2 separate regions of the Homo sapiens genome follow, and region 1 is linked to region 2. The links come from fine-mapping of genetic effects on gene expression. A gene starts in region 2. The other region holds a variant in brackets. All regions are shown on one strand. Distances are from middle to middle.

Region 1 (5,384 bases), 72 kb before region 2:
TTTTGTTCTCCTTAAATCACCCCAAGCTTCACCTCCTTCAGAAAAGAAACGGGCTTTTCCCTATTACAATCAGCAGGTAGCACCATCATCAGCCCTTCCCTCCCTTCAGTATCCTTCTGAAACACTAAATGAATCCGTTACTTTATTTATTTATTTATTTATTTATTTATTTATTTATTTATTTATTTATTGAGACAGAGTCTCACTCTATCACCCAGGCTGGAGTGCAGTGGCGCCATCTCAGTTCACTGCCCCCTCCACCTGCCAGGTTCAAGTGATTCTCCTGCCTCCACCTCCCAAGTAGCTGGGCCTACTGGCACTCGCCACCATACCCAGCTAATTTTTGTATTTTCAATAGAGACAGGGTTTCACCTTGTTGGCCAAGCTGGTCTCGAACTCCTGACCTCAGATGATCTGCCCACCTCAGCCTCATGACTTTATTTTAATTACACATTTTCTACTTGTTCTCTTCCACTACACTGAAGGCTATCCAAGACTAGAAGCAATGTTCCTCAAGATGAGACTCCCAAGAATACAATGAGGTCAATCAGGCAACCACATTTATGGGGCTCCTAATATTCCCAGAACTGGGATTCAGTTTCCAGATTCCTGTATGACAAAACTGGAAGATCGGATACATGAGAAGACAGAAAACCACACACACACACAGCCACAAAGACCACAAAAACACAAACCCACAGTCACAAACCATGCATGCTCTGACACTTGTTAGTGTAGTGCTCAGTAATCAACTATGCCAGCACCATGCTAGACACTGAGGTTAAGAAAGTGGCTGGTTCACTCAGGTTCTAAAGGAGAAAACTGCCTTTTGATTGAAATTCACATTCCTTAAGGGATGATAACAGACTGGAAGGCTATAAATTAGCTACTCAGCTTTCACATTTACAAGTCTCAATTTAGGGAAAGTTTATCCTCAGATATCATTTTCTAGCATTTGCAACATAAACAGTAACTGAAAAATATTTCTAGAATAATTTACTAAGCACTCTTCGTTTCCTTCCATCACCGCCTCCCACACACCTTTGATTTAAAATATAATTATTTACATTGAAAATCCAAAACACAAAATGCCATGTTAGAATTTCCAGTTCCAGACACTTCCACCTTTTTAAAATAAAATGGATTATGAAAATACTTTTGTTGCAAAGAAAAATAAGAATAGAAAAAAAACAATTAAAAGAAAAAAACACAAAATTCCCATGGTGTTATTCCAATGGGTAGAGCCAGCACTGGGCGGTGGCCAGGGCCATCCCCAAGGGCCCCTGGGAGAGATGTACCTACCACCTTTCATCATTCCCACTTCGTAGCATTTACGGAGCCGGCAGGCCTGGCAGCTCTTCCTCCTGTTTTTATCAATGGTGCACTGGTTGGTGGCTGGACACATATAGTCGTTATGTCCTATTAAAAGCAAGAGGACAGAATTAATATTATTTCAGGAAACTTAGCCAGTCAGAATCTACAGGGAAACCTTTTGGAGGCTGTTTTCCTATCACTTCCTCAGCCTTACTATGTTGCTCCCCAGCCTGCCTGCCTTTTTCTGTCCTTCTTGAAGTGCAAACAAAACCTCTCATGGGCCGGGCACGGTGGCTCATGCCTGTAATCCCAGAACTTTGGGAGGCCGAGGCAGGTGGATCACGACGTCAGGAGTTCAAGACCAGCCTGACCAACATGGTGAAACCCCGTCTCTACTAAAAATACAAAAAAAACCTGGGTATGGTGGTGTACACCTGTAATCCCAGCTACTCAGGAAGCTGAGGCAGGAGAATCGCTTGAACCCGGGAGGCGGAGGTTGCAGTGAGCCGAGATTGCGCCACTGCACTCCAGCCTAGGCAACAGAGTGAGAATCCATCTCAAAAAAAAAAAAAAAAAAACAGAACAAAAAACCTCCCGTGGACTTAATTTCTACAGCAGCCAATTGCTTCAGGAGTCCTTTGGGCAAGTCACCTTCAGTTCACACAGTCTATATTTTGTAGCACCATATTTTATGTGGTTATATTTTCTCAGCAGATAAGGTTTTTTGGTTTTGGTTTGGTTTGGTTTGGTTTTACCAAGACTGCTTGCCAAAATTGTTGTGAGGGTAGAGCTTTTAGAAATAGAGTTTTCAGAGAGAGAGTTTCAAAGTAGCCCTTCTTAAAATATAATTTAAGTCGGTACTCACATGCAGCACAGAATACCTAAAGTCAAGCCGGCTTGGTGGGCTGGGTGGTGACGAAGTTCAGTCCTTCAGTTCACAAATTAGTCCATGACTGACTACCTGGAGAACTCTGAGCAAGCTACCTGACATTTCTAGATCTCTCTTTCCTCCTCGCTAATCTAGAGGAAATCATGGAACCCACCACATCCAACGATTCTAAGAATTGAATGTGAGAATGCAGGTTAGGAGTTTACCATAGTTCCCCGGATATAGAAAACACTCAAAAGATGTTCGTTGTTGTTACCGTTATTTTATGATGAACCCTCTTTCTTTTCTCTCTTGTTGATTGACTCTCTCTCCCTCAAATGCTCCTTACTCATTGGCTTTGATCACATGCGAGACTGTCCCATAAAAGAGTCTCCCTTGCCCCACATGCTCTCTAACTTCCATCTTCTATCTTATCCCTTGTTCCCAGCTGAACTCAGAAACGTCTGCACATGAAATCTCCTTTTCTTCACCTCTCTTGCATTGCTCAACCCACACCAATCTGTTTTCCACCTTAGTTACCCCAAAAAAGCAACTTCCCTAGGATTACCAATGAATCGCGTTGCCAAATTTTACAGGTATTTTTCAGTCCACATCCTACATAACCTATCTGAAGCAGCTTACAATGTTGATACCTCCCTTCCCGCTGTGAGACAGGCTTTTTCCCTTGGCTTCCATAATCCCAAACACCCCAGTTCCTTCTGCCTCTCAGGCTGCAGCCTCCCGGTATTGTTTACAGATTCAATTTCCTCCATCCAACATTAAGCCAGAGGTGCTCAGGGCTCAATCCTAGGTCTTCTTCTTCTCTTACTACTCCATATTCTCCCACAAGACAATCTAGTGCATGTCCATGGCTTCCATCATCACCAAATGCAGATC[A/G]CTCAGAATGTACGCTCCCAACACAACCCTCTTCTCTGAGCTCCTGGTACATATGTCCAGCTGCCCACAGGAAGTTTCTGCTCTAAGATTTAGAAGTCACCTCCATCCCTTTATCCCTCAAAATAAATCTGGTTTATAGGGAGCAGAATATTAAAATTCACAAACTAATAAATATTGGCATGTTTTTATAAAGTCTGTCTGCATAAGTCTAAATTCTTACATATCTTGGGGAAATGTCCTGAATTTAGACTAAGGAAGTTATGTATACTATTGTAAAACATGGTTCTCATTCTCCCACCCCAAAACTGAATATATATTTCACACCCTAGTTCAGATTCTCTGCTTAAGTCTCTATTTTTTTCCATTTACTAAGGGCAAGATGCAACATGCAGTGAAATGTTTTAACTACAGAGCTCTTTGTTCTTTATTCAACTTAAGGGTCAGGCCCAATTAGAAGAGGGTGGAGTGAGGACTTGACAAGAAATGCTGGCCTCATAAAACTTGGCTTTCCATCTTTAAATATACATTATAAAAGTCACTGTATACACGGGCTTCAGATCAAATTAACATTTGCACTCTTCTATTGCATAACAGAAACCAGCAAACTAGTCAGCAGAGTTATAAACCTGTAACTTCAGTAAAAGACCACACACGGATTCAGATATCCAGACACAGTTATTATTTTTAGAATTGTCCTTATTAATAGGGTCAAACTGAAGAAGTAATAGAACCAGAAACAAAACTTATCTGTGCAGATGCTAACTGCAAGCAAAAAGTGTATTCTTCTGATACCCTAAAGAAACTTTCAGTGTTTAGTCTCCTGTGGTATTTATGCAGTATATGCTGATATATTTCAGCTTTTAACAAAAAATGAGTATATGGCCAGGTGTGGCAGCTCATGCCTATAATTCCAGTACTTCAGGAAGCTGAGGTGGGAGGATAGTTTGAGACCAGGAGTTTTAGACCAGCCTGGGCAACATAACAATATCTTGTCTCTACAAAAAAAAAAAATTAAATATTAGCCTGGCATGATGGCACATGCCTGTAATCCTAGCTACTCGGGAGGCTGAGACAGGAGAATCGCTTGAGCCCAGGAGGTCAAGGCTGCAGTGAGCTGTGATAGCACCACTGCACTCCAGCATGGACAACAGAGCGAGACCCTATCTCTAAAAAAAAAAGAATAAAATAAAAAATTAATTAGTATACATTAAGTTTCAGAAGAAAATAGTCAATAACCATTCAAACCAAATATTACTTTGACTCACTTTCTCCCCAGAGCCAGTTACTTTGTAAGCCAGAAGAAGACAGGAGAACTGAATTGGGTCAGAGACCAGTTGGCTGAGTCTCATGTTTGCACTGGCCATCCACTGTAGATATGTATCTTTGTAGAACCAAGTGAAATTCCTGAACTAACATGTTTAATGAATAAAAGGTACTAGATTTTTACAATTGAATTCGTCTCTTAACAAAAATGGAAATAGATGTACAACAGAATCATGTTCATACGGCAAACCTTTTGTGACAAAGCTAGAATTGATAAACTGACAAAAAGAAAAGTTTAATAAATACATATTTGATATATGCAATTAAAACAAATTCTTATTAACCAAACACTATTAACAACTATTTCTAAGTCTTCAGCTCACGTCAGAAGAAGAAAAACAACAAAGTAGTTTTTTTTCCTTAATGAGTGTAACTTGGTCAATATGTGTTATTAAAGCAATTGATTTAAGTTGCATTAAGATAGCATCGGGAGATATACCTAATGCTAGATGACGAGTTAGTGGGTGCAGCTCACCAGCATGGCACATGTATACATATGTAACTAACCTGCACAATGTGCACATGTACCCTAAAACTTAAAGTATAATAAAAAAAAAAGAAGAAATTCTTTTTAAATTTTATTATCTGGTCTTCTCAAGATAATGCTTGAGAAAATCTTACTGAAGTAGAGTTGATTTTCTAAAAAACAACTCACACCAGTTGTCTTAGTGAAACATAGCAGTGTGTGTGTGTGTGTTTTTTTTTAACTGAAAAGACAGGACTCGATGTATGTGACCAGACTGGCCCGAAAAGTCCTTCTGTGCAGGCCCGGATGAACCAAGCCCATAGGGCCAAAGCCACGATGTGATGTTCAGGTGAAGGTTTGGAAAAATAATCCGCACTATTTTCTTGCCCATCAAAAGATAAAAATAAAAAGCCTCTGGAGGAATCTAAGGTTTGACTGGCAGGAAGTGGAGGGGACAGGAGGTGAATGAGATGGAACCAGAAAGACAGGAAGCGGGGAGAGAAAACGCCTCTCAGT
Region 2 (5,384 bases):
AGTCTCATTAGTGCCCATTGAAATTCAGCAGCATTAATTTGCAATAAAAGAACTGAAAATTAAATAGGGAAGAAAATGGTTTCTGGAGTCCATCATAAGGTTATGGAATTCACATCATACCAGTGCCTTCCTTCACATCAAGCAGTTTTAAATGTTGTGTGGAATTAGACTTAATCGCTGTACTTTGTTCTTCCATTTAAAAAAAAAAAGGTGGGCAGAAGAAATCCTTTTTCTCTGTTTTAACCCTAAATTAAAACAAGTAAAATTAATTTGAAATATGCCAACCTTTAAAAGTTTTGTTCATTGTTTGTCTTTTGAGTAAAGACAGCTTGGATCTGCGTGGCTGTGGGATGCTCTAAATTTCTCCAAGGCGGCTGAAGATGCACACTGAATACCCCCAGAATCTGCCCTTCAGTATCCTCTGGGGCCAAACTGCACTTTAGTCCCCTTCCTTCTGCTATAAATATCCCTGGAAACAGAATACTGAACAAAAACTGGTCCACGGCTTACAAGGCAGAAAGATATAGGGACACCAGTCCGGATACCAGTGTACAGTTGGGAAATGCCTAATTCAGGACCCAGCCATGTGGCGCCCTGAAGCTTCCAAACCCAGTCCGGGGTACACCTGTCCTGTGGCCACCTAGGAAGGTGTTCACCAGAAGCGCCCACCTAATCCCTCTGCAGGCCCATCAGGAAAACAAAAAACAAAAAACAAAAGGAGAAACTGGGCAAGAGAAAATGGGAGGGAGAGGAGAGGGAGAAAGAACAATTCTTGTAGGGAAAAAAATTAAAATGAGGACACACAACCTTCGCCATTGAAGTCACAAAGTGGTCTCCTGTGTCCTGGACCGGCCGCGCTCCTTCCACAGTGGCTGCGAGGCGCAGACCCTGGCTGACCCGCACGCCACTCCGGGGCATTCTCCCCGGGTGGGACAGGCTTGTCACTGGGCTGGCAGGAGATTATTTTTAAGCACTTGTGCTTCCATATGGCTTGTTTTAAACTCGCGGGACACCTACAAATTTCCGGCTGTCAGAAGTCACATGCCAGCAATCCGCTCCAGCGCGGACTCAGCCAGCTAACTCCGAAATCAGACCCATTCAACTCCCAATCGCTCTCTAAAGCCCCAGGACGTGGGGTGGGGAGGAGGGGAAAGCGGGTGACAGGAATCGCTTCCCAGAAAGTCATCATCATAGCTGACATATTTCCAATCAAATAGTCTAGATGAAAGGAAATTTGGGGAGCACATTAAACAAAAACATTAAAAGGATAAATAAAACTCTGCTGAGCTCTGCTAACTCCAAACACCCCCAACTTTAAATGCCAAGAGCGAGACCTTCCCAAGTGACTCAAAGCGCCCCGTGTTTATTTGCCTGGAGGTGTTTTCCCCCACAAATAACTGCTGCTTTGTCTGGTTTTCCAACGTGTGTTTTGTTAGGAAGCCCGGGCTTTCGGGTCTGCCTCTCGCACGGACGGTAAGTGGGTGGAGAGTACGTTTTTTTCAGCTGCCCGGCGAGAGAACTTGACTCTGAACGCAGCGCGGGCTGCACGCAGAACCCCCGGGCTGGGCCGCGCGCCCCGGGCTCCCTGCGCGCACCCTCGGGTCGCGCGTCCCGCGGCTCCCGCAGCTCCCTAGGCTCTCCCTTCTCCCTCCCTCCCTCCCTCCCTCCTGCCGGGCGCGGCGGCCACCCCGACGGGCGGCGCGGGCGCGGGTACCTGTAGAATGCCGGCGGGCCGGCCTCGCGCACCGTGTAGCCGCTGGGCTCGTTCTCCAGGTAGTAGGGCACCTGCTGGCCGTGGGGCTGCAGGAAAGGCGACAGCTGCGGCGGCGGGTGCAGTAGCATCAGCGGGCTCGGAGACACGCTGTTGAGTGGGGGGAAACCCCCCAGGCCGTTGGAGCCGAACGCCGCAGCCTCAGACCCGGGGCCGTAGGGGAGGCCGGTCTGACCGTAGACCTGCGCGTTGGCGGCGGCCGCGGCGTTGAACTCGTAGGCGGCGCCCTCGGGGTAGTTGTACACGGCGGGCTTGCTGCTGTCCAGGTACACCTCGCCCAGGGGCCGCTCCAGGGGGATCTTGAGCTGCGGACGGTTCAGGGGCTCCAGCTCGTTCCCTTGGATCTGATGCAGTAGGGCCATCCCAGATGCTTTGGTGTGGAGGGTCATGGTCATGGTCCGTGGCCGCGGGCAGGGTGCAGACCGTGTCCCCGCAGGGCAGAAGGCTCAGAAACCGGCGGGCCACCTGGAAAAAGAGCACAGCCCGAGGTTAGAGGCGACGCAGCGCATGTCCCGCCGACACGCGAGCTCTGGCCCCGGCCCTGCCCCGGGAGCCTGCGGGTCCGGTGAAGCCGGGCGACCCGACGGGAGCAAGTGCAGTCCCAGGACGAACGCCCTCCGCCAGCTCCTGGGCTCCCGGGCCTCCAACTTTAAGTACTGGTCTCCCGAGCTCATATGCATTACAAAGGTGCTGGAGGACGGCCAGGGACTGTTGCCTTGCCCTGACATTGGCTTAAACATCACTCCAGGCACAACTCGATTTGGAGCGATCCCAAAGAGCAGCTTCCCTGAACTTTACTTTACTTGTCGTCGCTGCTGGATAGAGGCTGAGTTTCACGGCCAGGGGGCGGGGGCGCACGAGGATCTGCTAAAGGTGGCCCAGGGAAGACTGGGCTTAAAATAAACGCGAAAGACGGATCCAGGGGCCGGCTTTCTCTAATGTGCTGCCTTATGTGCCCCGTGCCAGACTCCGATATATCTCTGTTTGTCTCTCTTTCTGTTTGATTCCCCCTCCTCGTTGGCTAGAAATACGTAGTGTGTACATAGGATGACCCTGGGGAGGACTACACTGTAACCGAGATAGGGCAGATAGAATGGGGTGTGCGGTTGCATACGCAGCCAGCCACAGACAGCTATATTTAGCAGCTGGGGGAACTGACAGGGGGCATCTGAGGGGAAGGGGGCGGAGATTCAGGGTATACATATAGGAAGAGCTGCATTTTGCCATCAGGAGAATGCAACCTGCCAGGACCTCAGTTTCTTCCTCTGCAAAATGCTCCCAAAGTAGATAGACCCTTCCACAACCTTCTGAGATTCTCTCAGCCTGACTTGTGTGTTTATGTTGGACCACAGTACTGTACTTGGTCCCATTAGGAATTCTCATGTGAAGGATGATTCAGAAAAACCTTTGGTTAGGGCGCACATGGGTGTTCATGCCTTCCACAGGTTGGTTATGCAACCAAAACTTCAGAAAACTGAATATAAAATGTGACCTTTTCATACCAAACATAACCTCAGGTCACGAACCAAAGCTTTGGCAATTATGTTACATTGTCGGTCTGGTCCAGCTAACAGATTTTTAAAATGCATTTCTGCATGTCTATCCTTTAGTCCTACAACTCGATCTTCTCGGTTCACTTGGGCTAGGATATGCAGAATCAAATATCCAGATGAAAAACAAATAGAAAAAAGTTTTTAACTGAATTAAAAGTTAAACATGCACACGCACATACACACACACATATATGTGTATATATATATATATATATATATATATACATATTAAGGAGACAAAAAATAGGTGAAGTATATCATGCGTCTATAATCTTGGATAGTTTATACTTTTGAATAAACTTCCTTTGCTGCAGCCTAATAGACTCTGATACAACTATCAATACTTTGTTTTAATTGCTATCCCAAACACCCAACAGAGTATCTGACGAAGTGTTCATGGTCTATCTAAATGCCAAGCTTACTGTTACTAAGAGTTACATTTTTGACTATTTTATATCAAGTATACATTTTATCTAATTCTTACAAAAATAGACCATTGTTGGACAATATGCAAATGTAGCTGAAGCCAAAATCGAGTTTAGCATTAATGACTATAGATTGTCAGCAAATAAAGGGTTAAAAACACATTAGGTGCATCGCAGATATTTCCCTTTATGGCCAGCAATCATTACTTTCCAAAGCAATTTTTTACAGATGATTTAATTTCCATAAATCACACTTTCAATTTTCAAATGCCTTTTTAAAACACATGCAAAAAGCACTTCATAGGGCTCTTAAAAAATGTGAACCTGCCAAATTATATGCAAATGGCACAAAGAATCCTACAAGTCCTGAAAGAAAAAGGAGACACACACATACCCCCATGGAGAACAGCAATCCTCATCTCCCTGCTAGGATACAGACACTAGCCAGAAAGGTAAGTTGCTTTCTCAAAATGCTAAAGCTACAGAGAGAGAAATCAAAACAAGCCTACCCTGCTGGATCAAGAACGTCTTTCCAGAAATGTTCCATGGGCTTGTAGAAGTCAAGGGCCGAGAGAGTGAGAAGGAAGGAAGGAATGTGCTCGCATGTGCGAGTGGCTCAGTGTGTGAACTAGGCAGAGAGAGTGTGTGGATGTGTTTGTGCGTGGAATGGCAGGGATTCGGGAAGCAGCCAGTAGGCAGGGCACTTGGCAGCCCCTCCCGGCAGACACGCAGCTGGGCTACTGCACAGCGCTGGATGAATGGCAGTGGGGAGTGAGGGGAGACTTGCTGTCTGCTCACAGGGAGCAGTGTGGCACAGCCAGAGAAAGCTGTACTGGGGAGGAGAAACCCCAGCCCCTTTGCCCCTACCCTTGGAGGCTGGAAAGTACCCTATGCTTTCTGCTGCCACCCCAAGCAAGAGGAAAAACAGGCTTGCTGTGAATCATAGTCTTACGGCTAAAATAGAATGCCAGTCAAAAGTGTATGGATATCAAGTTTACAAAATAGGACATGGGTGGTTTTTCCGAAAGAATATAATTTAACAATAAAAGCCTTCTGGGATACATGTGGATCAAATGCCTTACTGGCCCTAGCCCCCAGTCTCTGAACAGAGGCATTGCCATGCCTCCGATTGCACCAGGAAACCAGACTTTGGAATAAATGTTTTGGCATTCTAGGGATGTGTTTCCAGCTGAAATGTAATACTCCTCCACTTCGTTAACCAAACCCACAAACCTTTCCATGAATAGCTCAGTTGACTGCTTTCTGTAAACATGTGAAAAATACGTATTATTAAAAGCCTAGGATATGAACATAAGATAAAGGTAGATACCTTTGTTTTAAACTGATTTTAGGCTTTCGAGTTGCACTGACCGTGATTGGGAACGAGGTCTCTCATTTCCCAGTGGCGTTCACATGGATCCACCTCTTGACCACTTTCTCAACTATTCTCTCGGCCATAGTACTAACACGCAATACTGAGGTGCTCCTAGAGTGCCCACGCTCAGGGTCCCAGGACACATGACACCCAATGGAGGCTTTGTTGCCAGACATTAGTCACCACCTTGGATATTAAATGACTCTAATCACAATGCCAGGAGTGGCCGGTCTCTGGCCCTGGGACACTATGCAGTTACT

Evidence for each region. PIP is the estimated chance that this variant, and not a neighbour inherited with it, causes the effect.
Region 1: its variant is fine-mapped to the expression of ESR1 in spinal cord (GTEx, PIP 0.99).

Annotation. Positions count from the first base shown.
Region 1 is chr6:151,876,690-151,882,073 of GRCh38, reverse strand. ESR1 (estrogen receptor 1) reads right to left here. Exons shown (of 8, transcript NM_000125.4): 3 at 1,303-1,419. Among named protein-coding and RNA genes, the nearest start is that of ESR1, 72 kb to the right of the region's middle. The variant A/G (reference allele first, on the strand shown) is at 3,080.
Region 2 is chr6:151,804,695-151,810,078 of GRCh38, reverse strand. It overlaps ESR1 (estrogen receptor 1), which reads right to left and starts at 2,397. Exons shown (of 8, transcript NM_000125.4): 1 at 1,715-2,397. The coding sequence starts at 2,166.